Linked DNA regions of Homo sapiens: all the other regions are linked to region 3. The links come from fine-mapping of genetic effects on gene expression. A gene starts in region 3. Each other region holds a variant in brackets. All regions are shown on one strand. Distances are from middle to middle. Region 1 holds the start of LOC124901090 (a long non-coding RNA gene). Region 2 has its middle 98 kb from the start of ARAP3. Region 3 holds the start of PCDHA13 (protocadherin alpha 13).

Region 1 (4,241 bases), 150 kb after region 3:
TATATGAAAATATTATTTGTTTTCTCTAAAATTTACATCTAACTGATGTTTTACACTTTATCTGACAATGCCTGGGCTCTACTACAAGCCAAATAAATCAGAATCTCTGGGGTTGTGGCCTGGGCATTGTTTTGAAAAACTCCCCAGGTTAGAATCACTCGATGCATAGCTAGGATTGAGAACCACTGCTCTAGAAAATGATAATTTTAGATGATTAATTAGGGTAAATTGGCATCAGGAGAATTGACTTTAGGTGAATTGGTATCAAGGTGAACTAAATTCCTGTCATCATCTTAGCATGTTATTTAACAAAAGCTTGTTCATCCCTCTAGGTCCATATATCATGTCCTTCTAGGAACCTAATCCATTTTGTAATCATTACTTACAAGGTCCCACTTTGAATTTGGCATCTGCCTCTGGCTGCCTTCTTTGCATAAGTGAGGTCTCTTCTGAGAGCAGTTTGCTTGTCTTGCATGTTAGCCAACGCCTGGAATTGAAGATGTGAACATGCTTATCTTGAAGGTTAAAGTTGAAGCGCCCTGGTTTCGAATCAGCAATGACTCGGAAGTCCCTTTTAATGCTTTCAGGCAGTTTTATTTTTCACTTGCATAGATGAGGAAATTGTAGGTAAGAATAATTTGATGAGTTTTAGGTGTTACGGACATAACCAAAGGCAAATTCAAGTATCTTAACCCTTAATAAATTAAGTTGGTTTAAGAAAAGATATTATGGTGAAAGTCTCCAATTTTGGTAAGTGTTGTTTATAAAAACAGGTAGACAAACTTACATCTCCAGACTTCTTTCAAAACAAAATGTCACCTTAGAGCACTTCTTTCTTCTTCTGTGCAGCTAAAGTGCTATCTGTCTCCTCATCAGTTCCAAATGACCAATGTGGCAGAGAAGAATGGGCTGTTATTTGATGCCAAATTGAATCTGCAGAGACTCAGTGAACTAGGACCAGAGAATTATTACAGTGACTCAATATGTGTGTGTCTATTTGTGATTTTTAACATTGATAGTAGCAAGGCTTACTTTTAATTTCCTCTTAAATATTAGGCTGTTTCAAAATGTCCACAGTTACTGATTAGGCCATTGTGTTTCTGATCTTGGTGATAAAAAGTAGCGAATTTTTAAACTTAAAAAAAAAATTCATTTGGGAGGTTCTAACTGAACTTTCCATATTTCAAGAGTACCCATCCTAGCCACAGGAAAACATGAATATTCTTCAGCTCAGAGCTAAATTTTAGTCATGCTTATCGCCCTTTGGTTTTCTCAGGCCACTGCCCCATGTGAGAGCTAGCAGCATCAGCAGCACAACTATCATCCCAATATTCTGATCATCTGAGAAGCAAGGGCTTCAGGAATGGATTTGTTTTCAAAAAGCGTACAAAGCCAGAAACTTGATTCCTCCATTTATGGATAATATCCAGGACAGATGGAAAGAAACACACCAGACAGCAAATGCCCTTGTCTCTGGTCTCCATATCTGCATTGGCACAGGTCAAACACAGTCTCTATGTGGCCCTGGGCTTAAAGGAAAACATCAGTTTTAGCTAAGCGAGAGCCCCAGAATTCAGTATATTTGTGACACGATCCAAATCCTTCACCCCCAACTTATAGCCTTACCATCACTATGTGACCATCAACATTAAGGTCGTGGTTTATGCCAGTTTCCAAAAGTTCAGAACTCCCCGACCATCTCCTTTCACTCAGAGAGTAAATCCCATGTTGTTCTGTAGATTTTTTTTACGCTATTTCTATCTTTCCTTAACTCCTGAAGCCTTTGTATTATGCCCTGTGGTCAGTCATTAGCAAAATTCCCTATGTTTGCAGCCTCTTTTCTGAAAATTTGCTGTCTTTGTTTAAACCGAACACTGGTTCTCCCTAAGGAGATTATTTCCATTATTCTTCTCAAAATGTAGCTGTGATTTTTCCTTAGCCTTTAATCCCACTGGGCCTAGAAGTAAGAAATTATCTTCCCTGCTCCTTCCAGATCATCCTACCACTTGCCACTTCTGTATCACCCTACCTTGCCCCCCACCTTGCCACTTCCAGATCTCCCTATCTCCCTTCTGCCTAACAACATTCAGCTTAGAATCTCATGCGGTCAAATTTTAACACCCACTACCTCTCCTTGTAGCAGTCATCTCCTGATCCCATGTCACTCACTGTCATTTCTTGATGATTTTACCTGCTGGCTCAATATCTTCTCTAGTACTATTCTAAACATAATACTTGGTGATTTCAATATCCACATAGATGTTTCTTCTAACAGCCTACCTTCTCCATTCCTTGACCTTCTCTCCTTGAATTACCCAGTGCTCTACTGACCTCAGCTACCTACTCCCATCTAAGGTCAAATATCTTTATGTTATCAGTGACTGCAACACTTTCCTAATTTCTAAGTATCAATTTCAAGCATCAAACTTTCTAATTGCCCCCTACAATTTTCCCAGCTTACTCCCTCTAAGACCCGAAAATAATGCCAACCATTCCAATACATAAAATCTATTAGTCCTACCATCTTTTC[G/A]TCATCCCTACCACCTTCATGTCCTAATTCTTTTTATCCAGTGAAAAGTCTGGGGTCAATCATTATAATCACTGCATTTTATATACCTTAAAATCCATGATCCTCCCTCACTTTAATATACTTGCTTATAAAAATCCGAAGCTTCATAAATCAAAAACTAGATTTATAAATTCAAAGACTTGTAAACCTAAAACTTTGCCCACATCAGGCTTGTATTCACATATGTTAATGTAGCAGGAGAAAAACATCACAATATTGCTAGCTGTTCTTATTTTATATTTGTGATTACAAATCTCAAGTGGCCCTTAACGTTGTCTGGCAATTATATAGTATTTTCCTAGCCCATTTACTCTCTCGTCTGCATCCATCCTACCTTGACCAATTCCTACATTCTGATGTCTTTCCAACTTTCAGCACTCCTCCCACTCCTCCATCAGTAGAGCATCTAACTTCAAATAAATTTGATAAATGAAGTGATCAGAGGAGCTGCCCATAAGTCTTATCTCATTGACCTACTGACCTGCCTTTGTTCTCTTGTACTGTATGTTATGTTCTGTGACTACTAGATGAACTCCCTGTGTCATGTACTCAAGGACATTGCTTTCTACCACCACTGTATTATCAATTTTCTCTTTCCTACTGGATCTTTCCCATCACCATACAAGCATGTTGTTATTTCTCACATCTTAAAGTAACTATTTATTGACCTCGTTTTTCCTTCCAGCTACTGCACATTTCTCTCTTCTTTATACAAAAAATTCCTTGAAAGTGTTCCCTATACTGACTATCTCCAATTTCTCCTCTAATTTCTGTTTTATAGTTTAAAAATTATTACATTATATTATATTATATTATGTTATATTATATTATATTATATTATATTATATTATATTATATTATATTTTTGAGACAGAGTCTTGCTCTGTTGCCCAGGCTGGAGTGCAGTGGTGTGATCTTGGCTTACTGCAACTTCTACCTCTCGGGTTCAAGTGATTCTTATGCCTCAGCCTCCCAGGTAGCTGGGATTACGGGTGCACGCCACCATGTCCGGCTTATTTTCGTATTTTTAGTAGAGATGAGGTTTCACCATGTTGGCCAAGCTGGTCTTGAACTCCTGGCCTCAAGTGATCCACCTGCCTGAGCCTCCTAAATTGCTGGGATTACAGGGGTGAGCCACTGCAACCGGCCCAAGTTTTAAGATAATTATATTTAAACAATTAGTACTCATAGCTACTTGGCTGTAGGTTCAAATGACTTCATTTGAAACCACTATTCTTCATTTTAGAAATTAGTACTTGGCCTGAAAAGATCATTGCAATGCTCAATTTTATTTATTTTAAAAAGTTCAAACCTATAGAAAAGTCAACAGAATAGTAAAATAAACCTCTATACTCCTTTCATCAAGATTCACCATTTAACATTGGCCACATTTACTTCTCTCTTTCTCTCTCCCTTAACCTTTCCTTCCCTGTCTCCCTTTCTGTCCTTCACTCTCTTCCTTCCTCTCTGTGTAATTTTTGGTGTATCATTTCAAAGTATGTTTTAGACATGACACATCACTGCTAAATAAAGCAGCATACACTTCCTAAGAATACGACATTCTCCTACATAATCATGATGGCATTTTCTTTTTTATTTATGTTTCATTTATTTATTTATTTAAGACAGAGTCTCACTCTGTCGCCCAGGCTGGAGTGCAGTGGCGTGATCT
Region 2 (4,241 bases), 900 kb after region 3:
GTGATTCTGATGCACATTGGAGTTTGAGAAGCACTGGACTATTGTATAACACTTTCCTATGAAGCCCCGTGCAGCATCAAAAACCTCAACACAGCACTCTAGGCCATCACTACTAATAGAGGCTACTTACACAGAGTGCTGGGCTGGGGCTCCTCAGAGAGGGCTGCACAGACCTAGGTCTGGAATTTGAGAAGCTAAGACCCTGACAAAGACCTAAATTTGGGCCAACAGCCAAGTGTGCCAGGAAAGAGAGCTCTGGACCGAGTCTGGAGATCAGGCCTCAAGCCCCTGCTCAGCCCCCTGCTCAGTGGCAGCACAACCTTAGGAGCCTCTTCTCCCTTCCAGGTCTCAGTTTCCCCATCTGTGCATTGAAGAAAATTTCTCTGTGCAGCGGCCCATTCTCCTGCAGCCTCCAAGCCAGGGTGAAGCAGATGCACGTGCAGTCCCCGGGGAAAACCCCTATAAATCTGCCTTCCCACAGGGGAGTGGAGCAGGGAGCACAGCAGTAACAGAGATGTTGCCCAGAGCTTGCAAGAGGCACACATGACTCAGCCCTGCAAGGAGGCATCCATCACCCTGGGCAGCCAGCGAGGCGGCAGGAGAACCACGGGAGGGACCGTGTGGGAGTGAGGGAGTGAGGGAAGGAGGAGGCGGGGCTCTTAGCCCCGTTTGCTCTACCACTTTCCCAGACCCGGGACCCATTAACAGACAAGAGGACTCTAAGCGCAGAGACAGGGGAAACCTGAGATAAAGAGTTGGGATGAGGGGCAAGGAGTCCAATTCTATGAAACCATTCAGGATGCAAAAAATGTGGCCCTGAACTACTTACAAATCTCAGGATTTGTAAGTAGTTCCTCAGATTACTTGTGAAGTTCAAGCCCATGCCCCTTCCCTCAGGTTAGCCTAGGGTGGGAGAGGCCCCCGTGACCCCTCCTCCCTAAGCAGGGAGCCCCCACTCCCTAGTGACTTCCCTCCAGCCAGCTTCCCTACAGACTCCCCTGGGATCGCACAAATCCTGAGACTACTCACAAGAATGCCTCCTCCACATCCACACTCATCTGGCTTCTTCTCAGCTCACATGTCACAGCCCAAATGTCACTTTACCAGAAAGGCCTTCCCTGATGAGCCATCTATCCCCCACCTGCCCGTGACCTTTTCATTGTCCTCATAGCTCAGATCACTCTTTGGAATCCCCCACTGATTTGCTTCCGGGCCTATGGTCATCTCCAGCATCCTCCTGGGATGGAAGCTCCCTGAGGGCAGGGGCCTCCCTGTCGTATTCTATCACCTGCCCGTAGAACAGCATTTGGCACAGAGTGGGTGCTCCACAGAGCTCCCACTTACCATGTGCCAAGAACTATTTGAGTTGATTTGCATACATTATTTTATCATGTCCCAACAATCTTGGAAATAGAAGGTATGATTATTTATCATTTTTCAGATGGAAACACTGAAGACAGAAAGATAAGTGATTTGCTAAAGGTCACACAACCAGGAAGTGGTAGAGTCCCTGTTTGGGCCTAAATCTGTCTGACCTCAAAGCTCAGAACATTTGGAATGTAGGAGCAAAGGGGCTATTAGAAATCTTGCAGAGGGCCGAGGGGGTAGTGTTGACCCAAACCTCCCAAGTTACTGCTAAGGAAGCATCAGCCCAGAACCAGGAGGTCCCTTCTAAAGCTGTTGTTACTTAA[T/C]TTAGGATTTCTAAAGGGAAGTCCTGCTTTAACCAGCTGCTGTCCAACTTCTGGAATTTGTTACCCCCAAGGGGTCTTCACAAGCTGAAAATAGAATGGAGTTCAGAAAGGGTTGCACAAAATTAATGGATGACAGGACCCCAGTGGTAATTAAAGGAAGCAAGAGATGCTGGGGGTTTGGGCCTAGACGTTTGAGGTCAGCATCATGCTGGGGACTGCCACGGTCTCCCCCCAAATGGGTCCCAGGTGCCCCAGCAGAGTGAGCCAAGCCGCAGGCTGGGAAGCAGGGGGGAGGTGAATGATGTCAACGTCCCCACCCACTCTCTGGCAGGATTTGGCCGCCTGGCTGCTTCCTCCTCACATCCCCAGGCCCAGCTGGGCTGTCAGGGGTTGCTGACTCACTCACCTGGCCAAGATGGCCAATTTGCACATGTTCTCAATATTTTCTTTGCTAATTTTTAAAAATAAAATGCTATTTTTGCAAAGTCTTCATTACTTCCTAATTATTCATACTCCTTCCACTTTTTTGTCTTGTTAAATACAAAACTCAATAATCAGCTCACTTTTCTAAGATTACTTGTGAAGTTCAAGCCCATGCCCCTTCCCTCAGGTTAGCCTAGGGTGGGAGAGGCCCCCATCACCCCTCCTCCCGAAGCATGGAGCCCCCACTCCCTAGTGACTTCCCTCCCGCCAGCTTCCCTACAGACTCCCCTGAGATTGCACTGCTTTATTCGACTGTCCTGGCATCCCCACCTCTCCTTATCTTCCCCTCTCCATCCAGAGCTTCTCCCTCTGTGCTCTCTTCACCCACCCCTCCCTTCTCCCTCCCTTCCTTCCTTCTATCAGTCTATCCACCCTCCTGTGGCCTCCCCCTCTACCTAACCAAATTATTCATCCTCCTCCTCCACCGGCCCCCTCCTTCCCCAGACTCCTTTCCTCCCCTATCCTTTACCCTCCCCTCCCCTCCCCTCCCCAACGCAGCACCTTCACACCTGGGAGCTACCCTCAGAGCCTGAAGGGTCTCTCTCACCCTACCCACCTCCTCCTGAAATATCATCCGCAGGCCTCAGTGATGCTGCACTGCTGGCTGCTCCAGCAGGTGGGTGCTGCGGTTCTCTCCGCTGATAATTCATTCCCCCTAGCCCTGCATAATCCTCCTTAAATCAGTTAATCCCTGAAAACTCACTTCTTCAGGCCCAAGAGCAGCAAGGAGGAGCGGGACGGGTCCCTAGGACTATAAATCCCTAGAGTACTGGGGCCAGGATGCAGTCCCTCTTTCAGCCACGCTGGAGTGTCAGGGATGAGACTAGCAGCTCCCCGCAGATCCTGCTGACAGGCCAACTTTATGGAAGCCTTGGCAGGGACAGCAGCCCCCTCTTATCCCAGGTAGTGGAGTCTTGTGGCCACCAAGGGGTAGGTGGATATGATGGGGGAGTTGCTGCTGGACCTGAGCCCCTTCTTCCAAATAACAGGCACCCCTGGGCTCTCTGGCAGGGGCCTGATTTCTGCCTGGGCTTTTGCTGCTGCAGTTTCCAATGCTCAGACACCCGCATGTGTGTCCACGTGGCCATGTTCACATGGCACATGCATCCACCTCACACATCTCTACACACTGTATACATCAGAACAGGGCTTCTCAAATTTGGGTGCACCAGAATCACCTAGAAATCCTATTTGAGTGCTAAGCCCCACTTCTTGGGTTTCTGATTCAGTAGGTTTGGGGAGGGGCCTGAAAATGTGCATTTCAAGCACATCAAGTGCTGCTGATGCTGCTGGCCCGAGTACTACACTCTGAGAACCACTGCTCTAGAGATGCCCACATGTGCATACACACAAGAGTACACGTTCATGCACAGAAGGTTTTGCAAAATGAGGAGTGAAGCTACTAGGAAGAACTGAAGCTGTGAGCTCAGTTTGGGGATTACTCAGCCTAAGAACACAAACTCGCAATATCATTTTCTCTCTCGGTCTCTGATTCTTGCTACTTCTCCACGGTCTCTGCATTTCTGTGTATCTCTTTCTCGGTCCCCCCGTCGCCCAACTCCCTGCAGCCTCCAGGTGTCCTCCCAGCCCCTTTGCACACATGAGCTCATCCATCTCCATCACCCAGCAAGTGAGTGGCAGGCAGGTGAGAGAGGAAGAATACAGAAGAACAGGCTCAGCTCCCCGCCAACAGGGAGCTCGCTCACCAAGAGAACACAGCCAATTATTCCCCCCGTTCTGGGGGATAATCATTAATGCCACAGGAAATTCTAAACAAATGATTAAATCATTACTGGGGAAGACGCAGCAAGCCTGTGCCACCATTAAGCCTCCCTTGTACTGTTGGTTTTCAGAGAGCTTACCTGGGAAGTGGGGAAGAAAGGGGCAGATGGGCATCATCACAGCCCTGCAGCATCACCAGCAGCCAGTCTGCCAGGGGCCAGCCCTAGAACCACCTTCCCCTCTCTAAGCTGCACACCCAGCAACTGTCTGAGAGCCCCTCTTGCCCTACCCATGATGAAGACTCTGTTCCTGCAGCCCTTCATGATCTCATGCCTCCTGATGAAT
Region 3 (4,241 bases):
AAGTAGAACATTTAAATTAGTGTATGTGCGTGTGTGTATGTATACATATTTTAGTTAAAGAAGTTTGACTATCTTCATAGTGTGAGTGAAAGAAACAAGTAAAAAATAAGATACTAAAAATAAGACAGGCAGCAGGTGAATTTAGATGAAAACCATGAGAGAATAGAAAATAATTTTTAAGAGCATATGGTTGACCTTAAAAGCGGGAACAGTTTTTCCTTACAACTAGTAGAAAATGAAAACAGATAATATAAGGAAAAATGACACAAGAAGAGAGCAATTGAATTTCTGTTTGGTCACATCTCTCAATGTGTGAATCATCTGAAAGTGAACTGATGGAAATGAGGTTGAGAATTTGAGAAGAGAGGAAAGAGAATATGGAAGAATCTCTGTAAGCAAGAGGGAGGAGTTAATTATCAATTCACTTGAGAGCCCAACTGAGGTAAAGGTGAGAGTAAATTTGAAGAGAATAGTCATGGTTAAGTGACAATGTTGAGCAGCTTAATAGGAAGCATAGAGAAAATGGATTGTCAGTGTAACTGCGTGTTGGAGGCTAAAAAGAATGTTAGAGGAGTAATATAAATAGGTGAATGACTCTAGAGTGTCTGGAAGGGCATATTTTAAATGGTTGACTATGTAGTCTAATTATGTGAAGAGGTAAATAAAGAAATGTAGGGCCAGATAGAAAGAATTAGAAGAGAAATACTATGTTAGTAAAAGTAATGGAGCAGGAGAGGATGATGAGGGTAAGAGAATACCAAATACTCTGCCTAAATTTTCAGAGGAGAGCAGAGCTATGGAAATAAACCCAACAGTCATTTCCTATAGAGTTGTGCACAGAACAGGCCAGATAATTATTGGAGCTATGATATATTTTTCATTACACCATTTGGCCTGGGATTTTGTGGCTTGGTAGAGATAGTTATAACAATAGATAAAAGTAAGATCCTCTTCCTCTTTTCCTTGCTAAAGATATGTTAACATCTTTGTCTAGCTGTTGTTTCTTGGAAAATTAAAGTCAATTTAAATGACGGCAAGGTTTTACTCAGTGATGATGAAGTAAGATGGAGAGAGAAAATGGAAACTTTAACCTCCTGGTTAAATTCTATTTAACCAGGACGCCGATTCGGGCTACAATGCGTGGCTTTCGTATGAATTGCAGCCGGCGGCGGTAAGTTAAATTCTATTAAATCAATAGGATATTAGTTCCAGGCATATTTTATAAAAACAGAATCCAAAACCTTAGAGCATTGTTGTGGCTAAATTATTGTGTTTATGCACATACACACACTCACATACAAAATCCCACACATATTGACTGAACACTTTCTTTTGAATATAAATATCTTATCTACATCTCAAGTCACATTGAGGGAAATTTATTAATATGATGTGCTTATTCAAAATCTGATATATCAGTTACCAATATTTTTCACCTTCACCGATTTTATTCTTATGTGATTGTTATGTTTCCTTTTGGAGTCAATGGCTGTTGTGTGAGGAGGTCTTGAAAAATATTACAGGAAGAGGACAGTACCACAAAAACCTACATGACTATGCAGAACTACCGATCAATTGTCCCAAAACGAGTGTCGAATATTCTTTGTCTTAAAGTTCTGCATGGAATTCTTACACATGGAAAAATAAATTTGTGGCAAAATGAAACTCATCAACCAATTGTCAGCTAATATAAAATGTTGAGCAGAATGCAGTGATTTGCTGTTTCTGGGAAGGTAAACATTTAATCTTCAATTACATATTTGCAGTGAAAATGTCAGGAAATGCAAGGGGCAAAAAAATACTACATCAATGGAAAATATGAAGACTGAGTCATACTTACACTTACACGTTCATGCGCATGGTGTCGCTCTTCACTGAGAACGTTTCCGCGAAGAAAGCCGCCGTTTCTTTCTTCCTGCAGAAAATATAGCAGAAAGCGGAATACCTCTTGCGAATCCTTCCGCACTAGGAAGCCATAAAAATTGGGCCTTGAGAGACAGTTTGAGGTAAGGCGTTGTATATATTGCAGATAGCTCTGAGGTTTTTGGAGTGTACCATGCTGTCTTCCTGGCAAGGAGGCCCAAGACCGCGGCAACTACTGCTCTGGCTTCTGATCCTCGCAGCCTGGGAGACGGGTAGTGGCCAGCTCCACTACTCCGTCCCCGAGGAAGCAAAACACGGCACCTTCGTGGGCCGCATCGCTCAGGACCTGGGGCTGGAGCTGGCGGAGCTGGTGCCGCGCCTGTTCCGGGTGGCGTCCAAAAGACACGGGGACCTTCTGGAGGTAAATCTGCAGAATGGCATTTTGTTTGTGAATTCTCGGATCGACCGCGAGGAGCTGTGTGGGCGGAGCGCGGAGTGCAGCATCCACCTGGAGGTGATCGTGGACAGGCCTCTGCAGGTTTTCCATGTGGAGGTGAAGGTGAGGGACATTAACGACAACCCGCCCATATTCCCTGAAAGCAAGAAACGAATAATCATTGCAGAATCTAGACCTCCGGAAACTCGATTTCCACTAGATGGCGCATCCGATGCAGATATTGGAGTAAACTCGGCATTGACCTACCGACTGGATCCCAACGATTATTTCACTTTGGACGCACAAAACAGTCTTGAGCAAATGTCTTCATTATCACTTGTACTGAGGAAAACACTGGACAGAGAGGAAATTCAGGAACATAGTTTATTACTGACAGCCAGTGATGGAGGTAAACCCGAGCTGACTGGCACAGTTCAGCTGCTCATCACGATTCTGGACGTGAATGACAACGCCCCGGAATTTTACCAATCCGTTTATAAAGTGACGGTGTTAGAGAACGCCTTCAATGGAACATTAGTGATCAAGCTAAATGCCACAGATCCTGATGATGGTACAAATGGAGATATAGTTTACTCATTTAGAAGGCCTGTATGGCCTGCAGTGGTATATGCATTTACCATAAATCCGAACAATGGAGAAATTAGGACAAAAGGCAAACTAGATTTCGAAGAAAAGAAATTATATGAAATATCCGTGGAGGCAGTTGACAAAGGAAATATTCCAATGGCGGGTCATTGTACCCTTTTGGTGGAAGTACTAGATGTAAATGATAACGCCCCAGAGGTTACCATCACTTCTTTGTCACTCCCCATCAGAGAAGACACTCAGCCTAGCGCCATTATTGCCCTAATCAGTGTGTCCGATCGTGACTCTGGCTCAAATGGACAGGTCACCTGCACCTTGACGCCGCATGTCCCCTTCAAGCTGGTGTCCACCTACAAGAACTACTACTCATTAGTGCTGGACAGCGCCCTGGACCGCGAGAGCGTATCAGCCTATGAACTGGTGGTGACCGCGCGGGACGGGGGCTCGCCTTCGCTGTGGGCCACGGCCAGCGTGTCGGTGGGGGTGGCCGACGTGAACGACAACGCGCCGGCGTTCGCGCAGCCCGAGTACACGGTGTTCGTGAAGGAAAACAATCCGCCGGGCTGCCACATCTTCACGGTGTCTGCTCAGGACGCGGACGCACAGGAGAACGCGCTGGTCTCCTACTCGCTGGTGGAGCGGCGGGTGGGCGAGCGTGCGCTGTCGAGCTACGTGTCGGTGCACGCGGAGAGCGGCAAGGTGTACGCGCTGCAGCCGTTGGACCACGAGGAGCTGGAGCTGTTGCAGTTCCAGGTGAGCGCGCGCGACTCTGGCGTGCCGCCTCTGGGCAGCAACGTGACGCTGCAGGTGTTCGTGCTGGACGAGAACGACAACGCTCCGGCGCTGCTGACGCCCGGGGCTGGCAGCGCGGGAGGCACAGTGAGCGAGCTGATGCCGCGGTCGGTGGGTGCAGGCCACGTGGTGGCGAAGGTGCGCGCGGTGGACGCCGATTCGGGCTACAATGCGTGGCTTTCGTATGAATTGCAGCTGGCGGCGGTCGGCGCGCGCATCCCGTTCCGCGTGGGGCTGTACACTGGCGAGATCAGCACGACGCGCCCTCTGGACGAGGTGGACGCGCCGCACCACCGCCTTCTGGTGCTGGTGAAGGACCACGGTGAGCCCGCGCTGACGGCCACGGCAACGGTGCTGTTGTCGCTGGTGGAGAGCGGCCAAGCGCCACAGGCTTCGTCGAGGGCGTCGGCAGGCGCTGTGGGTCCAGAAGCGGCGCTGGTGGATGTCAATGTTTACTTGATCATTGCCATCTGCGCGGTGTCCAGCCTGTTGGTGCTCACGTTGCTGCTGTATACTGCGCTGCGGTGCTCGGCACCGCCCACCG

What was found. PIP is the estimated chance that this variant, and not a neighbour inherited with it, causes the effect. A credible set is the group of variants that fine-mapping cannot tell apart.
Region 1: its variant is the best candidate, but not a certain one, in a credible set for the expression of PCDHA13 in lung (TOPMed, PIP 0.56).
Region 2: its variant is the best candidate, but not a certain one, in a credible set for the expression of PCDHA13 in prefrontal cortex (BrainSeq, PIP 0.79).

Annotation. Positions count from the first base shown.
Region 1 is chr5:141,026,058-141,030,298 of GRCh38, forward strand. LOC124901090 (a long non-coding RNA gene) reads right to left here and starts at 487. Exons shown (of 2, transcript XR_007058970.1): 1 at 387-487. The variant G/A (reference allele first, on the strand shown) is at 2,531.
Region 2 is chr5:141,777,843-141,782,083 of GRCh38, forward strand. No RefSeq gene overlaps it. Among named protein-coding and RNA genes, the nearest start is that of ARAP3, 98 kb to the left of the region's middle. The variant T/C (reference allele first, on the strand shown) is at 1,692.
Region 3 is chr5:140,880,213-140,884,453 of GRCh38, forward strand. PCDHA13 (protocadherin alpha 13) reads left to right here and starts at 1,912. Exons shown (of 4, transcript NM_018904.3): 1 at 1,912-4,241. The coding sequence starts at 2,057. All of the region lies in intron 1 of PCDHA1 (protocadherin alpha 1), which reads left to right. The region is part of intron 1 of PCDHA2 (protocadherin alpha 2); the gene reads left to right. The region is part of intron 1 of PCDHA3 (protocadherin alpha 3); the gene reads left to right. It also overlaps PCDHA4, PCDHA5, PCDHA6, PCDHA7, PCDHA8 and PCDHA9, and 4 more genes. RefSeq lists an enhancer at 3,547-4,131.